4 linked regions of the Homo sapiens genome follow. The protein of the gene in region 2 purifies or fractionates together with the protein of the main gene of each other region. This does not show direct contact. Each region holds a gene or a part of one and is shown on either strand. Other genes may lie near its edges.

What was found.
Region 1: the proteins of CRYL1 (region 2) and IFT122 purify together in Homo sapiens (affinity purification with mass spectrometry; 2 studies listed by BioGRID and IntAct, with this or other methods). This does not show direct contact.
Region 3: the proteins of CRYL1 (region 2) and ALMS1 purify together in Homo sapiens (affinity purification with mass spectrometry; 2 studies listed by BioGRID and IntAct, with this or other methods). This does not show direct contact.
Region 4: the proteins of CRYL1 (region 2) and EIF2AK4 purify together in Homo sapiens (affinity purification with mass spectrometry; 2 studies listed by BioGRID and IntAct, with this or other methods). This does not show direct contact.

What each region holds. Positions count from the first base shown.
Region 1 is NC_000003.12:129,442,322-129,450,538, reverse strand, and holds part of IFT122 (intraflagellar transport protein 122 homolog), read right to left. Parts: intron 669-8,217; coding exon 602-668; intron 1-601. UniProt on the Homo sapiens protein: As a component of the IFT complex A (IFT-A), a complex required for retrograde ciliary transport and entry into cilia of G protein-coupled receptors (GPCRs), it is required in ciliogenesis and ciliary protein trafficking.
Region 2 is NC_000013.11:20,402,641-20,410,857, forward strand, and holds the end of CRYL1 (lambda-crystallin homolog), read right to left. Parts: intron 2,102-8,217; coding exon 1,995-2,101; intron 1,603-1,994; coding exon 1,489-1,602; 3' UTR 1,029-1,488; downstream 1-1,028. UniProt on the Homo sapiens protein: Has high L-gulonate 3-dehydrogenase activity. It also exhibits low dehydrogenase activity toward L-3-hydroxybutyrate (HBA) and L-threonate.
Region 3 is NC_000002.12:73,605,193-73,610,990, forward strand, and holds the end of ALMS1 (centrosome-associated protein ALMS1), read left to right. Parts: intron 1-3,282; coding exon 3,283-3,382; intron 3,383-4,375; coding exon 4,376-4,420; 3' UTR 4,421-4,724; downstream 4,725-5,798. UniProt on the Homo sapiens protein: Involved in PCM1-dependent intracellular transport. Required, directly or indirectly, for the localization of NCAPD2 to the proximal ends of centrioles.
Region 4 is NC_000015.10:39,964,451-39,972,667, reverse strand, and holds part of EIF2AK4 (eIF-2-alpha kinase GCN2), read right to left. Parts: intron 6,983-8,217; coding exon 6,825-6,982; intron 5,325-6,824; coding exon 4,789-5,324; intron 1-4,788. UniProt on the Homo sapiens protein: Metabolic-stress sensing protein kinase that phosphorylates the alpha subunit of eukaryotic translation initiation factor 2 (EIF2S1/eIF-2-alpha) in response to low amino acid availability.

The sequences.
Region 1 (8,217 bases), on a different chromosome or scaffold from region 2:
GGAGATTAATCAGTCTGCGTATCTAGAGACAACAGAGAAGAGGAAGTAGACTTAGACAGAAAGAGAGATCATACAAAGGTTTTTTGGTCAAACATAAGGGGTTCTCTGAAAATTACTTTTATATACCTGGATAGGTTCCAGAGGGAGCTTATGTTATTTGAAAATATGAAAAATAGGACAACATCCATATGGAACTGTTTAGATAGGCCAATGCCTAAAAGTTGGGGTCAGGCTATCTGACTTTTCATGGACACAGCACCGTCAGTCCTGTTGCTTGAATTTTTCTGGGGGACAAAATGTAAACTGACACCAGTCCAGTTTCAAAGGCATTGTGATTGTTTTCAACTCTTTCATGGGTGTCTCAAAGTAAAAAGGGAAAGATGAATGACCCCAAAGGTGGTATTGTTCACAGGTTCTTATCTGATAGTTTACTTGCCCGTTTTAAATAGCCCATTTCCATCCCTATTAAAAAGTAATAGGGAAGGTTTTTCCACCCTTGCCTTTTTAATCTCAAAAAAAAAAAAAAAGGGTCAAATTTCAGAGTACTCACAAGAGGGAGGTTAGGGAAGCACTTTAAGAGGAAACTAAGACAAAATCCTACCAGTAATCTGCTTCCGGCAGCCAAAATCAGTTGAGTTCCATCAGGCTTAAATGCGATGTCATTTATACTGAACAGAAGACAAGGGAAAAAGACAATTAGGAACCAAAATGATGAAGTCTGCTAATGGCCAGGAAAGTAAACTTTATTGCCATTAAGAAACACTGTGTGTGTACTGAGGAGAAAAAGAATAACTACGAATTGCATTTGTTGCAAATTCCATTCAACCGCCACACCACAGCAGCCCATTCAATCATGATCCACTCAGTAGTTAGCTCTTTGTCCTGATTTCCTCTTGTCCAGAAGCCAGACACAAGAAATTATTCAAAGGGTCAACTGTTGAGGGTATTAACTCTTCTAATAATATCATAAAGGCTAGACAACATGAGAGAATGTGTTAAGGGCCAGTAAATCCACAGATACTTACTGAGTCCCTCTTAGGTGCCAGGCACCAACAGATATGAACAGATCATAATCCCTCCCTCCCCTCAGGGAAATTACTATCCAGTGAGAAGGTGTGAAACAGACACTTTCACAAAGAACTACCATATGTCATCAATTCTAAAGCTTACATTTTTTTTTCACATTTTCTCACCTCTAAGGTTGTGTCTTATAATTGATGATGTTTCAGTGTAACTGGCAGCATTTTTTGCTTTCTTATTGATACACAAAACAATGGTATTTTATAATCAATGACCTATTAGATTGGATGAAATACAGAACAGTACTCTGATAAAGGCTTTAAGAGACACATGAAAACAGGATTCGAAGGAGGAAGACGCAGTGATACAGGAGCTAGAAAGAAATTATTTAGCCAGATAGTGAAGGTAAAAGAGTCTTCGGCAGAACTTCCCTTTTAATAAAAAGCAGCCCAAGAAATTATTTTTTTCTAACAAAGAGCAGCCTGAAAAATCGAGCTGCAAACATAGATAGGCAAGCTGAGGCCTGGCGCAGCGGCTCATGCCTGTAATCCCAGCACTCTGGGAGGCCAAGGCAGGAGGAAGACTTGAGGTCAGGAGTTCGAGACCAGCCTGGCCAACATAGTGAAACCTTGTCTCTACCAAAAATACAAAAATTAGCTGGGCATGGTGGTGGGTGGTGAGCGCCTGTAATCCCAGCTACTCGAGAGGCTGAGGCAGGAGAATCACTAGAACCTGGGAGGCAGAGGTTGCAGTGAGCCAAGATCATGCCACTGCACTCCAGTCTGGGCGACGGAGGAAGACTCCGTCTCAAAAAAAAAAAATAAATAAATAAATAAAAAGGCAAGCTGGAAGCTTGCACTGGTGAATGCCGGCAGCTGTGCCAATAGAAAAAGGCTACCTGGGGGCCAAGTATGTTCAACATGGAGGTTCTGTCCTCCCTTTAATTTGTCACCACGTGTACAGTAAAGAAACGGGCAACATGGCGCTGGCCACGTAAATAACCCAACTGCATAATAAAAGATTAGGGTGGGGGTGGCCAGCTTTTCGCACCCAATGCAAATGACACACCTAGCCCTAACCAGTTTTTCGAAAGTTATGCAAATGAAACACCAATCCAATCAATCTTTTGTGCCCTATGTAAATCAGACACCACCTCCTCAAGCTTATCTATAAAACCTGCATTTCACCACAGAGGTGGCAACTCATTTTTTCGAGAACGCTGTCAGCTGCAGTGAGCTCTTCTCTTTCTTTCGCCTGTTAAACTTCTACTCGTAACCTCACTCTGGTGTGTCCGTATCCTAGTTTTCCATTGCTGTTGAGACAACAAATCTCGGATATTTACCCCAGACAATGACGCCGCTTCAACAGCATTTTAATTCAAGGAGAGGATCAGAAAAAGATTAATGAAGAAGATATTTGAAAAAGGTAGGGCTTTTGAAACATGGAGGAGGACACTGGGTAAAGGACATTTCAGGCAAAGAAAATAAAACAAGCAAAGACATGAAAGTGAGAAATAACAAGTGTAAAACAAAAATAAAATTGTAAGCCCCCCCAACCGTCTGAATGGACTTCCTCCTCAACCAGGGCTCTTTTAAAATTTAACCTGAGAGACTGTTTCAGGCCATGACGGGAAGTGGGCCTCTGACATGCCTCATTGTACCTCTCCGGCATTAATATCAACACAGACTTTAAGTATGATAAACATTTTAGGCTGGGTGCGGTGCTCATGCCTGTAATCCCAGCGTTTTGGGAGGCCGAGGCGGGCGGATCACGAGGTCAGGAGTTTGAGGCCAGCCTGACCAACATGGTGAAACCCTGTCTCAACTAAAAATACAAAAATTAGCCAGGTGTGGTGGCGGGCGCCTGTAATCCCAGCTACTAGGGAGGCTGAGGCAGGAGAATTGCTTGAACCCGGGAGACAGAGGTTGCAGTGAGCCGAGATTGCACCACTGCACTCCAGCCTGGGTGACAGCAAGACTCTGTTTTGCAGGGTGAGAAGAAACATTTTACAACCTATTCTTTCTGAAGCCTAGTACCCGAAGGCTTCCTCTGCAAATAAGAACATGGGTCTCCACAATCCTTTATCTTAACCCAGACATTCCTTTCTGTTGATCCCAGGTCTTTAAACAAACTCAGCCAATTGTCAGCCAGAAAATGTTTAAATTTACCTATAGCCTGGAAGCCCTCACTTTGAGTTGTCCTGCCTTTCTGGATCAAACCAATGTATTTCTTAAATGTATCTGATTGATGTCTCATGCCTCCCCAAACTGCACCCCAACCACCGTGGGCACATGTTCTGTGGACCTCCTGAGGGCTGTGTCACTGGCTGTGGTCACTCATATTAGGCTCAGAATAAATCTCTTAAAATATTTTGCAGTTTGACTCTTCTTGCCAACACAAGTAATCAAAATAATTTAATTTGACTGAAACATCTGGCTATGTGCAAGATGTTGCTAGAACATGGAGAAATGAGGCTAGAAAAATGGGCTAGAGCCATATTACAAAGATTTTTCAAATGCCCCAGGCAGAGGATTTCATTGGTTCAGGTGACTATAGTAAGAATGTGTCAAAAACCTGTCAAAACAGACTATTGTTAAGGTTACTACTGAAGTTACTCAAAACAAAACACACAAAAAACAAACAACAACAACAAAAAAACAAAACCCAACCCATAGTAAAAGTTTAGCATGGGATAAACTTGCCAGTGTCAACAAAAAATCAAACTCTGTAAAATATCTGAAGAGATTTATTCTGAGCCAAATATGAGTGACCACAGCCCATGACACAGCCCTCAGGTGGTCCTGAGAACATGTGCCCAAGGTGGTCAGGGTGCAGCTCGGTTTGACACATTTTAGTGAAACATGAGACTTCAATCAAATACATTTAAGAAATGCATTGGTTTGGTCCAGAAAGATGGAACAACTTGAAGCAGGGGGCTTCTAGCTTATAGGTTGATTTAAAATTTTTCTGACAATTGGTTGAGCTTATCTAAGGACCTAGGGTCGGCCGGGCGCGGTGGCTCATGCCTGTAATCCCAGCACTTTGGGAGGCCGAGGTGGGTGGATCATGAGGTCAGGAGACTGAGACCATCCTGGCTAACACGGTGAAACCCCGTCTCTACAAAAAATTAGCCAAGCATGATGGCGGGCACCTATAGTCCCAGCTACACGGGAGGATGAGGCAGGAGAATGGCGTGAACCCGGAAGGTGGAGCTTGCAGTGAGCTGAGATCGCGCCACTACACTCCAGCCTGGGCGACAGAGTGAGACTCTGTCTCAGAAAAAAAAAAAACAAAAAACCTAGGTTCAACAGAAAGGAATGCCTGGGTTAAGATAAAGGATTGTGGCAACCCAAGTTACTGTTTGCAGAGGAAGCCTTGAGGTACTAGGCTTTAGAGAGGAGAGTTTGTAAAATGTTTCTTATCATACTTAAAGTCTGTGTTGATGTTAATGCCAGAGAGGTATACTGAGGCATGTTTGACCCCCATTTCCCATCATGGCCTGAAACAGTCTCTCAGGTTAAATTTTAAAAGAGCCCTGGTTGAGAAGGAAATCCATTCAGATGGTTGGGGGGCCTCTGAATTTTATTTTTGGTTTATACCAGTAATCTAAAAATCAAGCTTTTGTCAGTAACTTGGAAGTACACTCTCAATGACAGTACTTCGAACTCTTATTCCAGACAGCACCTGCTGAGCTCTTAAAATGCATTATTTTATTTCATCTCCACAATAATTCTGTGAGGTAGGAATTATTACTCTGTTTTGTAGATGAGGATACCATGGCTCAGAGAGGTCAAGTAGTTTGCCTGATGTCACACAACTAGCAAGTGCAAGGGCCAGGATTTCAACTCAGGTCTGACTCTAGAGTCTGTGCTTGTAATTAACGCGCTATGCTGCCTTCTGCTCCCTTGAATTACTGCCAAGTATGTCAAATCTGTTATCCTTCATACTTTAATAACAGTGACTAACATTTATTGAACACATTTATTATTGTGTATGCCAGGTACAGCTTAAATGCTTTACATGTATTAACTCATGTTAACCTCAAAACAACTGTATACCTGTTTCACAGATGAGAAAACTATGGTACAGAGAAGTTAAATAACTTGCCTGAAAATAAAGTGCTACTGAATGGAAATGGAGCCAGGATTCAAACCAAGGCAATCTGTTTTTTTGTTTTTGTTTTTGTTTTTTTTGAGGTGGAGTCTTGCTCTGTCACCCAGGCTGGAGTGCAGTAGCAGGATCTTGGCTCACAGCAACCTCTGCCTCCCAGTTTCAATCGATTCTCCTGCCTTAGCCTCCTGAGTAGCTGGGATGACAGGTGCCTGCCACCACACCCAGGTCATTTTTGTATTTTTGGTAAAGACAGGGTTTTACCATGTTGGCCAGGCTGGTCTCGAACTCCTGACCTCAAGTGATCCATCTGCCTCAGCCTCCCAAAGTGCTGGGATTTTAAGTGTGAGCCACTGCATCCGGCCTCAAACCCAGGCAATCTGGCCTGAAGCCCATGTTTTAACCATTATGCTATGTGGCTGCCATTATCATTGTTGGCATATGTCAAAAAAAGGTATTATTACCTACTTAAGGCATTACATGAAGAATTCAGAAAGCTTTTAATATGGCTCTGTTGACCTGACGCTTCCTTTAATAAAAACTCTTCACAGTTATTCAATATTTAAGAATTGTTAAAGAGTGTAAACTTGGCCAGACATGGTGGCTCACGCCTATAATCTTAGCATTTTGGGAGGCCGAGGCAGGCAGATCACGAGGTCAAGAGATGGAGACCATCCTGGCCAACATGGTGAAACTGTATCTCTACTAAAAATACAGAAATTAGCTGGGCGTGGTGGTGCACACCTGTAGTCCCACCTACTCGGGAGGCTGAGGCAGGAGAATGGCTTGAACCTGGGAGGCGGAGCTTGCAGTGAGCCGAGATTGCGCCACTGCACTCCAGCCTGGCAACAGAGCGAGACTCTGTCTCAAAAAAAAAAAAGAGTGTAAACTTACATTATCTTATTTGATCCTTACGAAAACATAATGTAGTAGACAGGACAGGCACCACTGCCCCGATTTTACCAATGAGGAAACTAAAGTACAGAGAGGCAAGTTGTTTGCTCCTAGTCACAGAGCTGGCTGATAAAGAAGCTGGAACAAGGATGATTATCACACTCTTTCCAGCTGGGCAAACTGAAGCCCTGAGTTTTTCAGCTTCCTCACCATTATGTGGTAACAGACCTGGGCCTTCCTTGTTTCTTACGCTTTCTTCCTCTGAGCCTTGGCACATTTCACATTTTGAGAAGCAGCATGGCGGAATAAAAAGTAGGGGGGACGTGGGGCCAGAAAAGCTGATCTCCTATCTGAGCTTTCATTCTCACCTACAAAACAAGGATAGAGAGGTAGCCTCCTACTCACGGGGTGCACAAGCCAGTCTATCCAAAGCGCCTGACACTTGTGGATTGCTATGGTGGATTATTAGATGTTGGAGCAGTGTCTGCACCTCTCATCTAAAGTCATCCTTGGTATGTGGCTTCCTTTCTGCCTTGTACACATATGAGCTCATCAAAGTGATTCCTGTGTGACCTCTTCTTCATAAGGGTCATTTTGGGTTGAATTATCACAAAATCATTTCTGAATGTCTCATTTGAGCCAAGCCTGAACATTCTTCCTCTTAGATATAAAAATTCATTTTCTCTGAATATCTTGAAATTTGCCTTCCTAAAATATATCATATATGTCTGATTTGCCCCAATCTAAACTCTTAATGTACTTAGAATCTGTACATTTCAGTTTAGCTCTGACTTATACAGTCTTCTTTACATTGTGTTAGATATTATCTTGCCTTGCCCCTTTAATTATAGTCATACACAATTTGAAAGCAATGGCCATGTTCTACATATTTGTGGACCCACAGTGCATGGCACTGTCCTAGACATGTAATAAATATAATTATGAAATCACCAGAAACTCAGAATTGGAAAGGACTCTAGACCTTGTCATGCAGTCCATCTGGCCCATCAGGGCAAGAATTCCTTATAGATGGCCATCTAGCCCCTGCTTGAACACTCCAGGGCTGGGAGCTCACTCATTTGCAGGCAGTCTATTCTACTGTAGGATGGTTCTCTCTCCACCTGCCTCTTTTTATAAAAGAGATACACTGTCAGAAGACACACTGTCAGATTCCATTGCAGAGATACAGAGGAATCCTGCAAATTGTCCTCTGACAACCCTGCACCCACCTCACTGTAAACCAATGTCCCACAGTGCCTCTCCAATTCCTGCATCATCTGACCCAGCCCCACTTACTCATTTTGTAATCTTAGGTAACTTATGTCACCTCATTAAATCTCAATTTCTTCATCTTTAAATGAGATGAAAATTCCAACCTCACATGTTGTAGAGATTAAACATGATAACACCTATAAAGACATGTGGACATGTGGCCTATAGCAAGTACTCAGTAAATACTAGCTGGCATGAATGGAGAGTTACAGCAGATGCTAGCCTGATTGGAATACAGTGGGCTAGCCTAATAAGACATCCTGGTTGAGATGAACCTGGAGCTGTGCATTTAAAGGAGAAAACTAGGGAGTTCATAGAATAAGGGAGCATTTGGGAAGGATCTTCGGGTAGAAAAATAGAGTTTTCAGCTCAACCTAAAAGTATAAATTTAAATGTTGCAAGCCTGATGGGGAGGAGGGTCAGGAGGACCCTCTAGCAAAATGCACGACTTGACATGGAAAGTAATTGGGAATCACTCTAGGTTTATGAGAAGTAGAGTAACAGGATCACAGCAGCAGGTCTTAAAAAAACAGAGTTCCTGCTGCTATGTGAAGGTTAAAATAGAAGCAAAGGAGCAGACCGGGAGACAATGGCTGATTTGGATGTGGAGGACTAATCTTTGACATCTAGGATTTTTTTAGTTCTACTGTCTTTTTTTTTTTTGTTTAGTTTTTTGTTTTGTTTTCATTCTGGGCTATCAGCTGGTATATCTAGCAGCCATCAGGATTGATGGTCTATAGAACCCCTACATCCCTTATCCTAATAGGTTGTCTCAAATCTGTAATGGGCCAAAAACCAGAAAACCAATCTTTATTCATCATTCATTCACGTATGAATACATCTACCCACAGTATTTCGTTTTATATATATCTAGTATTTTATTACTATCCATAGTAACAACAACCACTGACCTGTCTCTAG
Region 2 (8,217 bases):
TGACCTGATTGGGGCAACTCCTTGCCTGAGGAACGCTTGGCTCTAGGTGAAGGCCCAGCCATTGGCACAGCCCCTGGATTCTTCCCTACCTGGCTCCACTCAGGGTCCCCTCCAGGGCTCCTTTTTGGTCAGGGTGGGCAGCTCCTCATTTCCAGAGCACTCCAGCCCTTCCCTATGCTCTCCTTCTCCCAGAAGGGCTGGCTGACTCCACCTGTTACCCCAGCCCCCTCAGGTTGGCCACCTCCTCAAGACCTTCCAGGGCACATGGGGCAGGCAGCTGGCCAGGCTCTCCTGTGTTGGATTCCTCTGGAGCACCAGTCCTGTTTTATTCTCAATTTATGTTCTTTTATGGTGACCTTCTGAAGGGCAGGGGCCACCTGTGGGACGCCTGGCACATCACAGCCACTCAGTGCATGCTGTGAGAATAAATGAGTGTGATGCAGAAGTCTGTGAGCACAGGTTAGCCACGATGACCACTTCCACACGGCTCCTGACCGGGGCACTGCATCCAACACCTCCACAGCCCTGGCCCCAAGGAAAGGCAGCTCCCTGCTGGACGAAGCTGGGCACCAGAAGCTGCAAGGCTGGGAAGTGTCAGGGGAGCCCACTGGTGGCATCTGGCCACTGTGGTGTGCATGGCCTTGTGGGTGGTGGGGCATGTAATGGTACTCCCAGAGTGTTTTGGGACTAGATCTAGGAAAAGACCACATCAAAGACAATAATTGAGTGTTGGATCAAACAGGTACTTTAGTGTAGAACTTTGGTGCCTTTAATTTGCTACAGACATGGGGTGTCTAAGGGCTGGGCAGTCAGTGATGTTTCCCAAACATCATCTGACCATAGAGCCTCAGGGTACCATGGAACCTACTCTGGGAAAAGCCCACATTTCTGGATTTCTGCTGAGTGATGGACAAAGGGCCTGGAAAAAAGTATCTGCTTATGACTTATGCGTCATGGTCACCCTAAAATATGCCGGTCATCAGGATCAAATGCTGTGTTTCTCATAAAAAACCAAAAGAGAAAAGATGTCTTTAAGGAATCAAAAACTTTTATTCAGAATAAGCGTTAGCAAAATGAAGGTAGGTGCCTCATAAATGCAGGGCCCCAGAGTACTCAGAAAGGGATTAGAAAATAATTACAAAAATATTTTGCCACATATTAACATGAAACTACAATCACTGGCTGTAAAATATAGTCAAATGCAATCAAGCTGAAAAGAAAAGGTGAAAATCTCCAGGTTATCTGCCCAGGTGGCAGGAAATCGACAGCCCCGAGAACGCAAGTGCTGCTGTGCCGCCAGGCCCAGGGCTATGATCCAAAGTGACGGGCAGACTACCGGCCTGCACCACCCCACTCAGGCTGCACACAAGACAGCCAGCTTAGGATCTCCGTGGGCTGCTACCTATGTCACAGAGGGCTGATTAAGGGCTTGCAGTGTTCCCAAATAGGGCCTCCAATGAGAGGAGTGGAAGCTGCATTACAAGAAATTCACTGGGGCTGCACTTGACTCTTCAACTTGGCGAGTCTCATGAGGCACTCGTCCCTCCACTGCCTCCTGGCAGCTAAGTGCTCCGGGTCATCAGGGACCTTCATGCACATGTCCTGCAAGAAGGAGAAGGAAAAAAAAGGACAATAAAGAGGAAATAATTTATCAAGAGTGTAATTATTGCTCTTGTTTATGCAAACTGTGCAGAAACTGCTTTCAAAGACAAAAGCAATAAACCCTCAATGAACAGCAGCTTTCCAAATCTTGAAAGACCTCAGTCCCTCAGAGACAAGTCACAATGAGCTACCAGTTCACTGGTCACCCTGTCCTTAAGGTGTCCTGGTGACACGATGGAAGTATGAACAAAGTTATGAATGAGGAACCACCAAGATCAAGGGTAAAGATTCCAGCTGCAGAGGCAGGCCCACCCGCTGCAGAGGTGAGGGGCAGCAAGTGCTCCAGGTAGCCAACATGCTTCTCTGCAGTGAGTTGCAGAGAAGTTACATACCTGGTTAACCTTCTCAGCAGTGGCCCTGGAAAACTCTGGAATGGGTCCAAAAGTCTGTAGGACATGTTTTATGCCTTCGCTGTATCTGTCGCAGTAGCTTAACATACCTGGAATTGTATGAAGACAAGAATCCACAATCTCAGAAAAAAACATTCTTAGTTATATTCAAACTCAGAAATGCATTCAGAGAGTTTCACCCTGGGGTCAGATAAGCTACACTCTTCCCTCCCTGTGAAGACAAGACAGAGCTGGGGCATGTGTAAGGGCCTGCTGGCACTGGAGAAGCGACCCTCCCCATTACGCACTGTCCACGCTGGCTCCTGGGGGTTCGAATGCCAAAAAGTGCTGGTCCTGGCTGGGCCCGGTAGCTCATGCCTGTAATCCCAGCACTTTGGGAGGCCAAGGCGGGTAGATCACCTGAGGTTGAGAGTTCAAGAGCAGCCTAGCCAACATGGTGAAACCCCGTCTCTACTAAAAATACCAAAAATCAGTCAGGTGGCGTGGCAGGTGCCTGTAATCTCAGCTACTCAGGAGGCTGAGGCAGAAGAATCGCTTGAACCCGGGAGGCAGAGGTTGCAGTGGGCTGAGATCGCGCCACTGTACTCCGGCCTGGGCAACAGAGCGAGACTCCGTCTCAAAAAAAAAAAAAAAGTGCCAGGTCCCTCAGACCTTGCATGCCACCTCTGCTGGTGCATCTCATGGGACCCTCCGGTTGGCCTGCGTTCACACACTGATTTGTTGGCTATCACAGTAAGTCCTAATGTCACCAAGTGTTTCCTCCAACCATGGGTGTACAAGGTTATTTGTGTACAACGTTTGAATGCATTTTCCAAGAATTAAAAATGTCAGATCTCAGGTAAACCTGTCACTTATGTCACTGTTAGACCACAGATCTCAGTTAGCACTGTATTGGGTACGGTCAAGGCTGCAGGTACTTGAAACACCGGTTGGAGAGCTCACGTTGGCTTGTACCTTGCTGGTTTGGGTGGATGGAGCCAGGCGCTCATCTGCACAAGCCCCCATGCACGCTCCCCACGCTCCTGCTGCTCCCCAGCCTTGGAGAGCCATGATTTCTCAGATTCTAAGGAGAGGGCCCTGGGACTTTGGTGAAGAGATGCAGGAAGAGGCTTATCCTGGAGGGAGAGGGAGGGAGCCGCACGGGCTAGGCTGACTGTGCGAGAATGGGGTGCGCCCAGGGGAAAGCGCAGGCCAGTCACGGCCCCCACCCAGCACTGGCCTGCCCCGACCCGCTGGGCCCCGCAGACTTACTCTCCCTCACATTCCTCCCCTCCCTGCTGCCGGGAGGCGAACGGGCTGGTGCCGGCCTGTGCTTAGCAAGTCAAGTCAGAAGCCAGGGCCGGGATCCTGGAAGAGGAGGAGGAGGCGTTTCTAGTCCTGGGCGCCATGGAGGACATAGGCTGGGCTACTGCTGCGACCCTGACTCATTTCCCACATCTTTCAAACCCTTAAAGGCTCAGCAGCTGGTCAGTCCGCCTACAAAGGTAACATGGGGACAAACGAAGCTGCAGAACGTGCAGAGCCTGCCCCAGCTCAGCTTCCCACTCCCCACAAAAACCGTGGATGATTAAGTTAAAATACGAACCATCGGTACTAGATACGCTCAAAAAGCAAAAAATAAACAAACATCATCTTTGGGGTTTAGTTTTGATTGACCTATGCTGATTTGAAAGCCTAAAATCATTGGGTTGCAATTTATTTGCTTCAAATAGTTCTTCTCTCTCAGTGTGTTAAAATTTCCCCCAAAATGGTTTTGAAGGGTAAAAGACTCAAACATACCAACTTTTCTGACATTAGCATCTGAAATTAACGGATGGGTACTCTGTTTATAAAAGAAGGGGTGTCATCTCATTTAACCTAAGTGTTAATTTGGCAGTGCAGAATTCTGGAAGTCTCCTGAGCTTTCCAGCACTGGATACGTACTGTAGATGGCTTAGCATTTCTGGAGAACAGAAAACAACCTACACATTTATTTCATTTGGGAAATTATTTACTTCACTTTTGCTAGTTGCTTATTTATTAAAACTAAAGGAGACAAAATCTAGACACAAATACAGTTTATTCCTTCCTTTTGGGGTGGGGGAGGGCAGAGACACAAGAATCAAGTTGAAAATACATTAAATTAGAAGAAAATGGAAAGAGCTGCTGTGGCTGCATATCCCCCCACTTGCAGGCAGGCAGGCGCCCTCACGAGACCCCTCAGCAGCCAGTTCCATCTCCCTCTCCTACCAGAGCAGCCACAGGCCAGGGGTTCAGTTCACGCAGCACTTGCTCTCTGGAACATGTCACATTCTCTGAGCAAGTGTTCATCTCTCCCTGTTCTGTGAAACCATTTGAACCTCCCAGGAGCTTTCTAGAACTTTCTTTCCTTTCTGCCTTTGTAACGTTTTAAAGGGACATTTATTTCTACAAAACTTTTATTCTGTTTTATTCTGTTTTGTAGAAATAAATGTCCCTTTAAAACTTATCATGCTGGAATTCATAATAGTGCAATTCATAATTTTCCCCATTTTTATTCAGGAAACCCTTTAAAATGTCAATCTTACTGATATAAAAACTTTCTGTAACATGCTCTTGGGATGAAGAGCCTCACTGTCTGTGATGAAGTTTAGGCGCCCACACCACGTGCTCACCATGAGATGGGTGCAGCCTCCGGGTGCTCCAAGGGCAGGAGTTCTCAGTGACTTAGACTCACGACCTGCATCTGCCTGATTATTTACAACCATGTCCCAGTAAACTTATGACTGTGACTGTTATTTGCAACTCCTCCCCTTCCATTTTAGGGAGGTGTAATTTATTTTCAACAATTATTTTGGCTTCTCTACACCACGAGAGGAGAATTGGGTGTAAATTACTCTAAAATGCCAATTTCTTTGGAAATAGGAAAAATACAACACAGCCCACTTCACTTTTGATCCCCTGGTCTGCCCTTCCCCACTATTTCTATCTAATCCAGCCTCCCCTGTATTTTTTCTTCTGTGCTTCCATGCCCTCTGTCCCTTTGAGTTCTAATTCTTCCAAAACCCTTGTAGAGCTTGGCTTTTTAGAAGATTCTGAACCTAATTTCTTAAGAGATGCTTATCCAGAAAAAGACAAAGAGTAGAAAAAAGAATTGATTCTCATGAGATTGGATGTAGCTTAACTTGCTGCTTTCTAACTTGCGAGCCTTGGGCTGTGGGCCTCTGAGGGACAGTGGGTTTGAATGCCCCAGGTGCACAGGCAGGAATCCTTTCTGTTCCCATGTATGCAGCAGGCACCAGAGGAGGCCTTAACCCCAGCCCGAGGCCACAGCCACTAGGAGGGATTCCAGGCATCAGCTCCTTGGAGAGCCTTAATTGCCACCCATACATGGGAAGTCCGGTTTTCTTTCACGCAGCTATGAACCCACACCTGTATGAATTCACCTGCTTTTTAGAGACAGGGTTTCACAGAACTCATTAAGGAAGATCAAAAATGCCTCAAAGCACAGAGCGACATTATCTCATTCCTACTCTCAGGATCAAATTCCCACCTGAGTGAGGACTTGCCCAGGGTAGGGGAGGCAGAACCGACCCGGGCCCCTCACCTCACCTCAGCAAGTCCCCGCCCATCAGCTCACCTGCTTCCACTGGCTGGCAAATAATTGCTTCCCATCAATCAACCAAACCCACCAGCCACCAGGCATCTCAGTTTTGAAAAAGGCAAGTGTCTACACAGGAGAGGAAATCTGTGAGGCAAAATGGTAAATAAACATCCACTTCCCCTGGAGGCGATTTCCACGCTGCCAGATTCTGAGATGTCCTCATTTCAAGTGGAACAAAATGCAGGAGGAACCCAAACAGCCCCAGGGACAAGGCTGAGCGGTTTCTCTCTCTACTGACCTGCGAGTCTAAAGCTTAGCAAAGAAACAAACCCGGCTGGGAAACTCTAGGTACCTGGTTCCAGAGGCTTCTCCATGCCATAGCAAAAATCCTAATCTTGTGATTTTTGTACATTGATTTTGTATCCTGAGACTTTGCTGAAGTTGCTTATCAGCTTAAGGAGATTTTGGCCTGCATTCTTATACACCAACAACAGACAAACAGAGAGCCAAATCATGAGTGAACTCCCATTCACAATTGCTTCAAAGAGAATAAAATACCTAGGAATCCAACTTACAAGGGATGTGAAGGACCTCTTCAAGGAGAACTACAAACCACTGCTCAAGGAAATAAAAGAGGATACAAACAAATGGAAGAGCATTCCATGCTCATGGGTAGGAAGAATCAATATCATGAAAATGGCCACACTGCCCAAGGTAATTTACAGATTCAATGCCATCCCCATCAAGCTACCAATGACTTTCTTCACAGAATTGGAAAAAACTACTTTAAAGTTCATATGGAACCAAAACAGAGCCCGCATCACCAAGTCAGTCCTAAGCCAAAAGAACAAAGCTGGAGGCATCACACTACCTGACTTCAAGCTATACTACAAGGCTACAGTAACCAAAACAGCATGGTACTGGTACCAAAACAGAGATATAGATCAATGGAACAGAACAGAGCCCTCAGAAATAATGCTGCATATCTACAACTATCTGATCTTTGACAAACCTGAGAAAAACAAGCAATGGGGAACGGATTCCCTATTTAATAAATGGTGCTGGGAAAACTGGCTAGCCATAGGTAGAAAGCTGAAACTGGATCCCTTCCTTACACCTTATACAAAAATCAATTCAAGATGGATTAAAGACTTAAACCATAAAAGACTTTAACATAAACCATTAAAGACTTTAAACCTAAAACCATAAAAACCCTAGAAGAAAACCTAGGCATTACCATTCAGGACATAGGCATGGGCAAGGACTTCATGTCTAAAACACCAAAAGCAATGGCAACAAAAGCCAAAATTGACAAATGGGATCTAATTAAACTCAAGAGCTTCTGCACAGCAAAAGAAACTACCATCAGAGTGAACAGGCAACCTACAAAATGGGAGAAAATTTTCACAACCTACTCATCTGACAAAGGGCTAATATCCAGAATCTACAATGAACTCAAACAAATTTACAAGAAAAAAGCAAACAACCCCATCAAAAAGTGGGCGAAGGACATGAACAGACACTTCTCAAAAGAAGACATTTATGCAGCCAAAAAACACATGAAAAAATGCTCACCATCACTGGCCATCAGAGAAATGCAAATCAAAACCACAATGAGATACCATCTCACACCAGTTAGAATGGCAATCATTAAAAAGTCAAGAAACAATAGGTGCCGGAGAGGATGTGGAGAAATAGGAACACTTTTACACTGTTGGTGGGACTGTAAACTAGTTCAACCATTGTGGAAGTCTGTGTGGCGATTCCTCAGGGATCTAGAACTAGAAATACCATTTGACCCAGCCATCCCATTACTGGGTATATACCCAAAGGACTATAAATCATGCTGCTATAAAGATACATGCACACGTATGTTTATAGCGGCATTATTCACAATAGCAAAGACTTGGAACCAACCCAAATGTCCAACAATGATAGACTGGATTAAGAAAATGTGGCACATATACACCATGGAATACTATGCAGCCATAAAAATGATGAGTTCATGTCCTCTGTAAGGACATGGATGAAATTGGAAATCATCATTCTCAGTAAACTATCGCAAGAACAAAAAAACCCAACACCGCATATTCTCACTCATAGGTGGGAATTGAACAATGAGAACACATGAACACAGGAAGGGGAACATCACACTCTGGGGACTGTAGTGGGGTGGGGGGAGGGGGGAGGGATAGCATTGGGAGATATACCTAATGCTAGATGACGAGTTAGTGGGTGCAGCGCACCAGCATGGCACATGTATACATATGTAACTAACCTGCACATTGTGCACATGTACCCTAAAACTTACAGTATAATAATAATAAATAAATAAATAAATAAAATCCTAATCTGTATTTATTCCTCTCTCTGCACTTGTGAATCTTTTTGGAAGAATTTTAAAAACCAAAAATAAAACAACAACGAAAAAAACTAGAAAAGTAGTACGTGAAAGAAACAAGACAAAGCTCTGTTTGAATATAACATATATTAAGGACTTAACAGGTGCCAGCAATCCAGCTAAGAGCTTCCATCTGGTTCAATTCTCACACCACCCTGAGGAAGCAGTTACTGTTGTCCCCATTTCACAGATGGGGAAACTGAGATGCAGTGAACTTAAGTCATTTGCCCAAGGTTATACAG
Region 3 (5,798 bases), on a different chromosome or scaffold from region 2:
GTATCTGTTGCCAAAGAAAATGTGAGTTTTCAAGCCAACAATAGAAATCTAGAAAACTTGTATTCACCTCCATGGGCTTGATGACCTCTTAGTACTTAGACCTTTCTGACGAGATAAGCGGTGGCATTAACAAATGTGATGTTTTTCATGTTATCTAAATACATTTGTCAACATTTGGAAGATCTGCACAACTCCCTGGACCAGGATTTTCCAAATGATTGTTGCTTTTTGTTACAAAATCAGGGAATAGATAGAAGATTCATTCAAATAATGAAAGATAGACTGATGGATTTTTATGTAACAGAATAGGAAAAGTTTATGACATGTTTTCAGATTCCACCTTGCAACTAATTTTTAAGAAGCTACCACTTGTCAGCCAGGCACAGTGGCTCACGCCTATAATCCCAACACTTTGGGAGTCCAAGGTGGGCAGATCACTTGAGGTCAGGAGTTCAAGCCTGGCCAACATGGTGAAAGACTTCTCTACTAAAACTACAAAAATTAGCTGGGCATGGTGGTGGGTACCTGTAATCCCAGCTACTCTGGAGGCTGAGGCAGGAGAATTGCCTGAGCCTGGGAGGCAGAGGTTGCAGTGAGCCAAGATCGCGCCACTGCACACCAGCCTGGGCAACAAGTGCGAAACTCTGTCTCAAAAAAAAAAAAAGAAAGAAAAGAAACTATCACTTATCAAGTTTGGGTGTAGTATCAAAGAAGATCAAGAGTTACCTGAAAAGAGTATTGCAGTAACTTCTCTCGTTTCCAAGTACGTGGAAAATCTATATGTAAGCTGGATTTTTTAATGTATACTTTAACCAGAGCAGGTTGGGACAGCAGACTTAATACAGAAGCAGATACAAGTCCAGCTGTCTTCCATTAAACCAGACATTAAAGAGTTTTCTAAAAAATGTAAACAGTGCCACTCTTCTCACTAACATTTTTTTGTTTTCAAAAAGTCTTTATTTCCCATTAAAAATACAGGTTTCTTATGTTAGCCTGTCACAGGCTTATTGTTATTTCAAGTGAATAAAAAAATAAAGTTTTGCTTAATTTTTAATTTTAATTTTTGATACAGTATCAATAGATAAAACCTACATTGGGATCTTCAGCATTTGGGAGTGTGAAGGGGGCCCTAAGTCTAAAATATTTTTGAACCACTGCTTCATTCTAACTCAGTCACAAAATGGAATTAGGGGAAATCATACAGGGTTTGTTGTGGGGCAGCTACTAATACTCTCACCTCAGCAAGAGCAGTCCCTGCTGTAAGGGACTAGGAAGCTTGCCTACAGGAAGACAGCCAGGACATCTCCTAAAATGTATCAATGCTTTCGACGAGAAATATATGAGTGGATTTAGTGCCCATCTTCTGGAGAGACTTTTTAAACTGTTTTTAAACTGGTACATTTTCATTAGGTTGCTTCTGTTCATGTTTATTTCTTGTGTGGCCTCTTTTCAAGGGAGTGATCTGTTTCCATCTGAGAATCTTCAATATCATCTAGTAACTCTTAATATTTAGGAAACTACAACCCAGAGAGGGGAAGTAACCCAGCAAGTTAGGGTCACAGCTGGAGTTAGAGCCTGGTGTTTGGCCTTCAATTGTGTCCTATTAAGGATTTGTGTCTCTGGAGCCTGTGTTACTCATCTTTTGTTATCACCTATCTCTACCAAAGATATTTAAAGGTTCCCGTGAGAAGGAAAGATTTCAAGAGGAAAGAACATAGCTCTTTTATTTGGAAGCACTTGTTCCAGAGTGGCCTTCAGGAGACACCTTCACCTTCTCTAATGTGTTTCCCGCAGAGCCCTCCATGAATCTAGTGATTTTTTTTCCAGATTATAGAAAACTTTAGGAAATATAGAGAAAAGTAGAAAAAAGAAAATGAATATCACTTATCATCCTTCCATCTAATGGAGGATGGGAATTTTTGGTGGGAGGCGTGGGAATTTTGCAGAGACCTGCATAACACACACTTTTTTCCCTCAAATTGTTAATCATACTGCATATACAGGTTTGTGTCTTGCTTTATTTTATTCAACATTATGTTGTGAACCTTTCCTATGACACTAAAAATTCTGAAACTTTTGTTTGGTATACATGAAACATACTTGTAACATATACATTCCATTATACTTCATAATCTATTTAACTGTTGTTTTGTTGGAAACGTATTTACAATGAGAGTGCATTTATCAAATGCACATTTGTGTTTCTCCCAACTTAAAATCATTGCCACCCAACCCCTGCTAGAACAGATCCCATGTTTTTCACATGGCCACAAGATCCTCTCTGCAGCCCACCTCACCCTCACCCCCATCTGTTTCCCACCTATTCCTTTACGCTCCTTTTTGGGAAGCCTCGAGTCCATTTTTACCAACACTCATTTTCCCCACCTTGAGTGTCTTCTGTCCTTCTCCCCATTCCCTTTCTGCTCTTATCCATCATTATTATTTTTTTATTATTATTATTATTTTTGAGATGGAGTCTCACTTTATCACCCAGCTGTAGTGCAGCAGTGGCTTGATCTTGGCTCAGTGCAACCTCTGCCACCCAGGTTCAAGCGATTCTCCTGCCTCAGCCTCCTGAGTAGCTGAGATTACAGGCATCTGCCACCATGCCCACCTAATTTTTTTTTTTTTTTTTTGGTGTGTGTGGTTTTAGTAGAGACGGGCTTTCACCATCTTGGCCAGGCTGCTCTTGAACTCCTGACCTCGTGATCCACCCACCTCAGCCTCCCAAAGTGCTGGGTTTACAGGCTTCAGCCACTGCACCCAGCGCTCCTATCTATTCTTAAGACCCAACTTACCTATAATTTCCTCTCTGGAGCCTTTCCGAACCTCCTTCCACCAGACCAAGTTTCTTCTCCTCTAGAACATTTTATAGGTGTGACCATTTTAGTACTTTTCCATAATTTCACTTGTGTTTCCAAACACAATAGTAACGCTGTTCATTATCTTATATTGAAACAGTCCATTTTTGCATGTAGAGCAGAAAGTAGAAGTTCAGCTCTCCTTCATTTATCTCACTCCTTTCCCCCCTTTATCCCACTTCTTTCCACATGTAAGCACTATTAGGATTTTATTGTGTTTGTATTTATCTCCCCTTCCAGATTGTGAGCCCCGGGCTAGGGTTTTCTGTGCTGGAGTATCTAACGGGGCCCAGGGCCTTTCTGAGAGGGATGAGCTCCTGGAGAGTGGGAGGTATAGGGAGGGATGATGAGAGGAGATCTCATGACTCTGCACCCTGGTAACCTCCCCGATTTCTGTCCTTTCACTGGTGCCATTTCTAAGGATTTATGAGCAGCTTCCAGAAGTACAGAAAAAGAGAGAAGAAGAGAAGAGAAAATCAGAATATAAGTCATACCGGCTGCGAGCCCAGCTATATAAAAAGGTCAGTGGGTCCTCTGTCTAGAGTGGGATGGATCAGGTTTATTGGCGGAAAGAGAAATGGAGAAAACACGTTGCCTGTTGAGTGTGAAGTCAGAATGAACCGCATTTGAGGAATGAACTTAGAATGCACTGGACCAGTGTTGAAATTTGGAAGAAGGCATCTGTAATTAGACTTCAAATCAGGTTTAACTCCCCATCCATAATGGTGTAAGGCCCTTTCCATGCATTCGTTTGCAGTGAAACCAAATTTCACACACAGGAGTTCATTGACATATCATGGTAGAAATACCAGAATTATCAGGTTTCCATTCCAGAGTCCCAGGTGGTGATTTCATGCCCCTCATTGGTGAGTCAGATACCTTTAGAACTGTTAAACTGGAAAATGTGTAACTGCGGCATAAGAGTTGTCCACTTGGATGGTCAGAGGCCTCCAACTTGTCACCATGCCCTGCCCATTGTCCCAGTAGAGTCAGCGTTGCTGCAAGTCCAAGAACCTCACGGGGCAGGGTTGGTGTTACCAGTTAATTCTCTGAGAAACCAGACCGGCTCCTATGCCTGAAGGGCCATATACTTCACTGTAGTTGTTTCCTTCTCACCCTGTCAGTCACCAGACTGATGTGGGATGGGAGCTGCTTCTGGAGCAGGCCCCAGAACCCAGGCGGGTGCCTCAGGTGGAGGCCCCAGGCACCACACCACCTGTCTGGTGTGTCAGCATCGCAGGGCCAGGCCTCTCCTTATGCTACTGTATGTGGGAACTGATGGATTATCTGTGTCTCTATAGAAATAATAGATATTGATTACAGATCCTCTTTCCTGAACCTTTCGTGAAGTATTTTTTATATGACGACCATAGTTTCTGAAGCAGAGTAAAATGAACAAGATTTGAATAGGACCACACTGATTCTCCTTGGTGACATGGATGCAGGGAGGAGAGGCATCTGCCTCTGATGGCAGTAATATCTAACTTCTTTCCTGCCTTTCTTTTCTTCTACAGAGAGTGACCAATCAACTTCTGGGGAGAAAAGTTCCCTGGGACTGACACAAGTTTATTTTCCTCAGAGCCTTGGAATTCTATTTTATGAACCTAGAGAAGCAGAATCCTTACTTTTGTGAGTCTGGTTGAATAAAGCTTATTCTTTGTCCATGTGTATTTTAGAAATAGTAACTTCTAAAGAGTCTGGAACAAAGTGGTGATTAAAATTCCTAATGGTTTGGGAGCAATACTTTCTGCATAGTGGCCTTGTCCAATGGCCTGTGTGTTACAATGATATGATCATTTCTCAAGAATAAGTCCCTTTTTGTATGTGTTTTTATACTTTTAGAAAATAAAAACTTTAGATTAACTCATAGTAAACAATTCTTTCCCATCTGGAGAGATGCAAGGAGCTATGCATTGTCTCCACCGAGGTGTCTAAATGCATCAGTTGAGGGAAATGGGCTCTTAGAAGGAAATGTAGCCTGTATCTTTAGAAACACAATGTGCTGTAGTGGGAGCACTGTTGTGGGCTTTGAGGAGACGGTGTCTGGTTAGATGCCCACCGGGTGCACCCAGAGACTGCAGCAGGAGAGGTGTCTTGGGTCCAGAGCCTCCTTTCAGCCCCAGTCCAGCTCCCCCAGGGACTCTCTGTGTAGGCTGGGGAGAAAGGCCACTAGCCTTGGCTGATGGATCTTCCTCCACCCACACTCGGTTTTGGGATTAAAGCCTCAGACCATTTATCATTACACGTGAAACCAACACTTACAACATAAAGGACAACTTGTGAAAAAGATGAGTCAATGAATGAGATAAAGCATTTAACCCAGTAACTGGATCAGAATGTAACAGGATTTTTTTTTTTTTTTTCATGTGGCCTGGAATTATAGCTAAGGCCCAAAGTAATGGAGGAAGGTTTTCAACAGCCTCACTCTAAGTTCAGCAAACCCCAGTACAAAGATTGGCAAGGGCCAGTCATCCACCGAGAAGGCTTCCTGGGAGGCTGGATCCAAGAGCAGGCCCTGCCCTCAAGCACGGTTCAGAGCTTTCAGATCCTGCCCCCTGGGCTCCCTGCCATGAAGAGGACACTGGGAAAAGAACCCATGGTGCATGAGGTCAACTCATAGTTCTTCCCTTTCTTGCTGGGCAAGGTAATGAAGCACTTTTGGCCAATTTACCTGTAAAATGAGAGGGTTAATACCTCTAAGCCCCTCTTTACATAAACTCTAAAACAATGTGACTATTTCCACCTCTTGTGAGACATTATTATTCAGAATAGAAACAAATTGTTGTCTCAAACCTGGGTCTGCAAAGAACCCAGGGCAAGATGGAGTCTGATGAGGAATGATGAGCATGATTCTCTCTAGGCCCAAGGCTGTGGCATCCAGACACCTTCCAAGGGCAGTTAGATTTGGTCCTGGGAGGCCCAGGTGGCAGGTGCCAG
Region 4 (8,217 bases), on a different chromosome or scaffold from region 2:
AGACTTACCCTCATGGAACAATTTTTTAAAAGTCTAAGGTAGCACAAGTAGGCTATAAATTTTCACCTCGATGAACAGTTTAATGCCTTGTCATGCCAAACTAAGCCTTTGCAGGAACCGGTTATAAATAAAGCTTTCGAAAGACAAAGCAAATCAGAGAGTTGGTGCAGCAGAGTGGCTCAGTATGACGAGCTTTAGATGAAGCCTGCTCATTACAGGATGAAGCAAGTTGGAAACATTTAGGGAAGGCTTTTTTAAAGTCCCATATTCTATTGCATACTTTTTTTAAAAATTGGTTTATGCTTTTTTTTTTTTTTTGAAATAGGGTCTTGCCGTATCGCCCAGGCTGCAGTGCAGTGGTGTGATCTCAGCTCATTCCAACTTCTGCCTCCCGGGCTCAAGCAATCCTCCCATCTCAGTAGCTGGGACTACAGGCAGGCACCACCAGGCCTGGCTAATTTTTATATTTTTTGTAGAGATAGGGTTTCACCACACTGCCCAGGCTGGTCTCCAACTCCTGAGCTCAAACAATCTGCCTGTCTCGGCCTCCCAAAGTGCTGGGATTACAGGCGTGAGCCACCGTGCCCGGCCTCATATACTTTCTTTTAATCTTCATTCCTTGAACCCATTAACTTACTGTTTAATGGTGTAATAGACAATTCTTGTTTTGTTTTTTAATGAAGAAAAACAAGCCATACCTTTAACCCAGGGCTTCTCAAAGTGGGGTCCCTGGCCAGTAGCATCAGTATCCCCTAAAAAATGTTAGAAATACAAATTCTACTATACCCCTGACCTAGTAAATCAGCATCTCTGGAGGTTTGGACAGTGATCTGTGCTTTAACAAGAGCTCCAAATGATTTCAATGCAAGCTAAAGTCTAAGTTAAAGTCTAAGTAGTTAAACTGTAACTGATTTAAGCTGGCCTTTTTTTTTAATTTTAATTTTTTTTTTTGAGATAAGGTTTTGCTCTGTCACCCAAGCTGGAAAGCAGTGTTGCGATCATCACTCATGGCAGCCTCGAACTCCTAGACTCAAAGCATCCTCTTGCCTCAGCCTCCTGAGTAACTGGGACTACAGGCGTGTACCACCATGCTGGAATGTTTTGTTTATTTATTTTCATTTTATTTTATTTTATTATGAGACGAAGTCTTGCTCTCTTGCCCAGGCTGGAGTGCAGTGGCACTATCTTGGCTCACTGCAACCTGCAACCTCTACCTCCCAGGTTCAAGCGATTCTCCTGCTTCAGGCTCTCAAGTAGCTGGGATTACAGGTGAGTGTCACCATGCATGGCTAATTTTTGTCTTTTTAGTAGATATGGGGTTTTGCCATGTTGGCCAGGCTGGTCTTGAACTCCTGACCTCAAGTGATCTGCCTGCCTCAGCCTCCCAAAGTGCTGGGATTACAGGTGTGAGGTATCACGCCCTGCTGTGCTGGAATACTTAAAAAAGTAGAGATGAGGTCTTACTATGTTGCCCAGGCAGGTCTTGAACTCCTGGACTCAAGAGATACTCTCACCTAGGCCTCCTGCAATGCTGGGATTACAGGCATGAACCACCATGCCAAGCTACTTTCATTACAACGGCCCAAGTAGTACGACTTGGTAGCACTTGACCTATAATTAAAACAATATACTTAAAAGAATCAACTGTCGTTGTGAGTTCTGGACTTAAAAATCTATACATACAAAGTGGTGACAGCAACTATCATAAATGGTAACTTTTTTTTATGTTGCAGCAGTAAAAAGCAAGGTACTCCTAATTTCATAGCTTGAACAGGCAAAAAAATTCTAATAAAACCATTTGTATAAGATACCGTATTTTCCTTTAAATTTAAAATTACTTTTTAATTATATCATTAAAACATATATACCTTCTCCTTGCAAATATTAAAACATTACTGATAATGATAAAGCCTTTGACCAACCTCCCCTTCCAATTCTTTCTTCCACTTAGGGTGTCTCATTGTAGAGATTTTTCTATGCATTTATACACATAAACATACAACCATCCAAACAAAATAGTATTGTTTTTTGATTTTTTTAAGCAATATCATCTTATATACATTATTCTTCAGCTTGCTTTTTTCATTCCACCATGTGTCTTGGAGCTCTTTCTAAGCCAGTACTTAAAGATTTTTTTTAAACTTCTGTATAGGCGTGGACCTACCAGAATTTATTTACACATTCTCCTACTGTTGAGATTATTTCCAATTTTTCACATTTTCACAAAATGCTGCAATGAGCATCCCTATATATGCCCTGTTGGGTTTCTGAATTGCGTTATCAACTGTAACTCAACTGTGACATAAATGTTATTGACTTGAAAGTAAATCTGGATCAGAAAAATGTTACAGCCTACCTAGAATGCACAGTATTTTTAAGAGATTTATAGCCACCAAGATCTCACTTTAAAAATGAACTTCTCTGAATCAATAATTTTGGCAACAGGGTAGCCGTATATAGAAAAGGTTCAGCTTTGAACAAAAAGGGATAAAATGCCTGGCAACACCCACATTTCTTCATAGTTCTCACTACTGAGGATGGTGATGAAAACCAGCACTGACTCAGTCTGGGCCAAGTGCCAGGCACTTTATGGCTGTTAACTAATTTAATCCTCACAACCACCTCATGAGGTAGGCAGTGCTATTATCCCAGTTTCACAGAGGAGGAAACGCAGGGCAGGGGGTTAATTCACTCAGCCAGTAGGACATAGAGGTGAGACCTGAACCCAGATGTTTTGACTCCAGAGTCTTACCCATCACAGAGGCTGATTTGAAACAAAATCTTGCTCCAAAGGGTGTTCACTAATATGTAAAAATATAACTACAAATGGAAGGTTGCTGTTTTCATTCTTTGTGAATGGCATTTTTCTTTTGTTAACCAGGGCTGGACAGCAAAGTTCATAAAAACAGTTCTTGGCAGCTCCTTAACCAAGCACAGTCTATCAAACCACTCCAGGGAGAGAAGTATACAAAATAGTCTAAAGAAAAATCTTGTTAAAAGAATAAGAAGGCCATGCGCTATGGCTCACGCCTGTAATCCCAGCACTTTGGGAGGCCGAGGTGGGCGGATCACGAGGTCAGGAGATTGAGACCATCCTGGCTAACATGGTGAAACCCTGTCTCTACTAAAAATACAAAACATTAGCCGGGTGTAGTAGCGGGCGCCTGTAGACCCAGCTACTCAGGAGGCTGAGGCAGGAGAATGGCGTGAACCTGGGAGGCGGAGCTTGCAGGAAGCTGAGATCGTACCACTGCACTCCAGCCTGGGCGACACAGCCAGACTCCATCTCAAAAAAAAAAAAAAAAAAAAAAGAATAAGAAATTGTGCTGATCTCAAGTTTAAAACTGACAGAGCATACAGCTATTTAAGAAGAGAACTAGGAAAGTTTTACCTACCGAGCCCATTCATTTTGCTACTAAACGGGAAAGGAAAGGTACTTCTACTTAAACCTCCCAGTACTGTTTTTAACAACACATGATGCTATTGCTAACCTTGACTAAATTACTCTTCATCAATGAAGAAGGCAGAACACTAAAGGTGACATTTTGAAGATGGAAATGAAACTTTCCATCTGTGATTCTATCATCATATTTGTCATTTTGGCCAACCTCATTGTTAGGGTGCATTTAAATAAATATGTTTAAAGCTCCATTGCATTAAAAAGATACCATAAAAGATTTCTTTAGAAATCTTAATATTTTCATATACTTCAAGGCGAGAAACCAACATAAAGAATCAAACTTGGCCCCTTTCCACAACTGTATGTATGTGTGTGTATATATATATATATATATCATATTCACTTTACACAAAAACAATCTCAAACACAGGTGCAGCTACTTTCACATCTGTAATGGTAAGACCATCAGTGACAGAGCATAACAATGTAAACCAGGCCAACTGGCTACTGCGATAGGTGGAATAGGGAAAGAAATGTGAAGGGTAAAAGAAATGTTGCAAATGGAAGAAGTGAATAAAAGCAAATGATTGGGAAAAAGAAGGTAAAAAACAAAGAGTGTCAGAAAGGGAAGAAACCAGCCCAGGTCAACTCCTGCAGGATAGCTGGACCAGAGGAGCATCTGGAAAAATCCAGACTGAAGGGATCTTATCTCCCATTTAACAGAAACTGACAGAACTTAGCTCTGGCTTGGACTGAAAACAGAGGCAGGACGAAATTAGAAAACACTTAAGTGAAGGACCTGGACAAACATCTTAGGCCTGAGGAAACATCTCAAGAAGGGTTCTCCCAAATTGGATAAAACTTGGCTTTGTAATTAAACATGCACCTGTGATTTACAGGTATTGAAACTCCTCTGGCTAGACTAAGGAAGTTATTTGCATTCTACAACTTAAATGAATGAGACAGCCAATGAAGAATGGTTAAGAAGCACAAGGGGCAGAATCTCACTCCCAAAGCTGTTTTTGAATAAGGAGCCTCGTCTTTGACCCTTTAGGAACCAGAGCAAAGGTCAGTATTTGGAATACCTAGGGCATTTCTCACCATAACCATCTCTATTGACTTCCAAGAGTATCCCATCAGTCCCCCAAAAGGAGTTTGAAAATCAAGTGTGAATTCCAAGTGAATTTCAGAGAATGTGGTAGTTAAGAGAATCACCAACCTACATGAGAAAACAGAACATATGAGACTAGGACAGGATTGGGAGAGCAAAGAATGAAGTCCTGTTCCTCACTTCTCAGCTTCCACATCACTTAGATGTCTGGCACACTCCAGCACAATCAAAAGTACAGGAGTAAAGTGCTATTAGAGAGAATCTCAGTGATACTCACTTCTTTAGAAAATCTTGAAAGTCAGCTGGTAAGTCACTAGGGATGGTCACAGGGTACTCTCCACATTCCTGTCCTTGGCTGAGGGACAGCAGCAGAAGGCCAAGACGCCAAACATCTCCTTTCTTCCCCGTTTTATAAGGCAGAGCATTGTCACTAAAACGAACTCGGGTTTGCTCAAACACATCCTCCTTGCAAATGTCTGCGAGGCGCTTAGAAATGCTATAGTCCGTAATCTTGACGGTGCCTTCTGCATCCACCAAGACATTAGATGCACTCAGGACCTTATGCACCACAGAATTGCTGTGCAGATAATCAAGGCCTGACAGGAGCTGAGCTGTGTACCTGCGAAGCTGATGCACAGGGATGGGGCCTGAGTGGCTCAGGTGTGCAGCAAGAGAGACCCCACTAATGTGCTCCACTAAAATGTCCACCACGATGGAGTCGTCTTGCTCTTTGAGATTCATTGCAAGGTAGCGTACTACATTTGGATGGCTCAATTTTACCAGTGAGTTGAATTCTGTTTCTGTTCCTTGAATCTGATAAGTTAAAAAAAAAAAAAAAGAATATTGGGCCAGTCAACATTAACTTGGGTTTCATTTCAAAAGTGAAGTATTTGATCATACAAGATGGGGGCATAAAAAAACAAAACCAAAACCAAAAGTGAAGTATTTGATAGAAAATATACTTTCAAATGAGAGGAGAACAAATATGCCCTAAACTGAATCCTCCCCAAACCATATGGTCAATCTAATAGTTCATAAAGATGGAAAAAATTTAGCTAATTCTCAACTTCTCTAATCTCAAAACCTACTATGCATATACTACAAAATTAGTGAACAGTTTTTAAAATAAAATTCTTTTGAGGTATAGCCACTAGAAAAAACAAACTTTAATTTAAAAATAACCTTTTCTGATTAGCTTTGTATTTGGGTTTTTAAAAATATAGTATATGATTTGAGCAGCAGAATAATGGCCACATCCTAATCCTCAGAACCTCACATGGCAAAGAGGAGTTAAGGTTGAAGACAGAAAAAAAAAATCTTTTCTGATTTAATAAAGATCATTGTCAACATTTAAAAAATTAGTTTGATAGAAAATACCCACATGTTATCTATGTGGTCACCACCCAGTGATAACTCAAGATTTTGGCACATTTACTTTCAGTTTTCTTTCTATACTTAAATACACACACATTTCTGAACACCATGCTTTATCTACGTTTTTGTAAACCTTGTTATTATGTAACACTGCAATATGCAATACTGAATGTTCTCCTTATGCTTGGTTATAAATCATAATTTATAAATTAACTTAAAAATCCTCCGGTCCCCCAAAATTCAGTTTTGAAGCAGTATTTTTCTTTTCTTTTTTTTTTTTTGGAGACAGGGTCTTGCTCTATCACCCAGGTTGCAGTTCAGTGGCATGAACACAGCTCACTGCAGCCTCAACCTCCTGGGCTCAAGCAATTATCCCACCTCAGCCTCCCGGGCTCAAGCAATTATCCCACCTCAGCCTCCCAAGCAGCTGGGACCACAAGTATGTGCCACCATGCCCACAGATTTTTAAATTTTTTGTAGAGACAGGGTTTCACCATGTTGCCCAGACTGGTCTCAACCTCCTGGGCTCAAGTAGTCCTCCTACCTTGGCCTCCCAAAGTGCTGGGATTACAGGTATGAGTCACTACACCCAGCCCTGAAGCAATATTTCAAGAGTAGGGAAAAGAAGAATTGCAAAAAAACCCAATTATGAACTAGTATTTAGTCCCAGTTGGAAAGATGACTGTTAATGCCATACTAAGGGCTAAGAAAGGAGGTTAAGAAGGCAGCTGGAAGTGCTTTGATCATGTTGTGAAAGTTCTGAAACCAGAGGCAAGGGGCAAAGAGGTACTGGTCCTTCACTGTCCTCCCTGGTCAAACAGTTCTCATACTGCTCTGGACCATCTCTGCAGGGCAAACAAATGCAGGGCTATTTTGTTCTGTCATCTCCTAAAGCCTGAGATTAGGCCTTTTGCTCAGTCAGCCACCTTGGATGCTTACCTGCTTTTTGCACTTATCAATCTTCTCTTTTTCTTGACTGGTAAGGAATGGACCCATTTTTTTCTGCCACTGAAGGACCCACTCATACAACAAGACAAAGCCACCAGTGGCTGTTTCCAAAGCATTGTAGACTAATTTTCCAAGTTGTTCATCACTGCCTGCACATTAAACAGAAAGTGTAATTAAATCCCACTGGTATGTTTTCTCTTGGGGGAAGGAAGGGAGGGGGTAATACACATTCTTTAGTTCAACAATGGATACCATGCGCTAACTATGGAAAATAGGACTTTATGTAATAATGTCCTTTTGTAAACAATTTTTGATATTTAGCAATATACCTGAGTCCTAAAATAATTTTTTATAAGGGGCAAGAATCTACAATGAGATCTTAGTATCAGGCAAATAAAGAGACCAATGTTTGGCCAGGCGTGGTGGCTCACGCCTGTAATCCCAGCATTTTGGAAGGCCAAGGCAGATGGATCACCTGAGGTCAGGAGTTCGAGACCAGCCTGGACAACATGGTGAAACCCCGTCGCTACTAAAAATACAAAAAAATTAGCCAGGTTTGGTGGCGGGCACTTGGAGTCTCAGCTACTTGGGAGGCTGAGGCAGGAGAATCGCTTGAACCTGGGAGGCGGAGGTTGCAGTGAGCCTACAACGCACCATTGCACTCCAGCCTGGGCGACAAGAGCAAGACTCTGTCTCAAAAAACAAAAGAGGCCAGTGTTTTATGCTACTAGCCATTATGCACAATGTTATTTTCATAACGAGTCTACCTTTGCTGACTGTGTCTACTGGTGTACACTCATACAGCTAAATACCAACTAAAATGACAGAAAGAATATGAAAATAGAGAACAAGCCATCGAGATCATTATAGATTAGTGTGCACAGTAAAACAGTAATTTGAAAATCTGAATACATCAATGACTTTCTAAGTGCAAAATTTGAATATGCTCAGTAAATACAAACTGGTCAATGCTTTGGAAGGAAAGAACAAGAGATGACAGTTTAGATTTGAAGCTAGAAAATGAGACACATTTATTTAGTGATAGTCATATGGTTCTCACTTACACAGGGAGAGCTAAATTTCTGTAACACCAAAAATTTTCTTATAAAAATCTCTATTTTCATTAAAACCATAATAGAAAATTCTAAAAAATTGGAAAAGGAGAAAAAAATCACCACTTGTTTTATTTTTCTTTTAGTTCCCTCTATTCTCCTTTACCCCATAATTTACCATATCATAGCATATATATAACACCTTGACACTATGACATTTTGGACCAGGTAATCTTTGTTGTAGGCAGCTGTTTTGTGCACTGTAGGATTTTAGCAGCAATCCTGGTATCTACCCACTAGATGCCAATAGCACCCCGACCCCAATGTTAGCC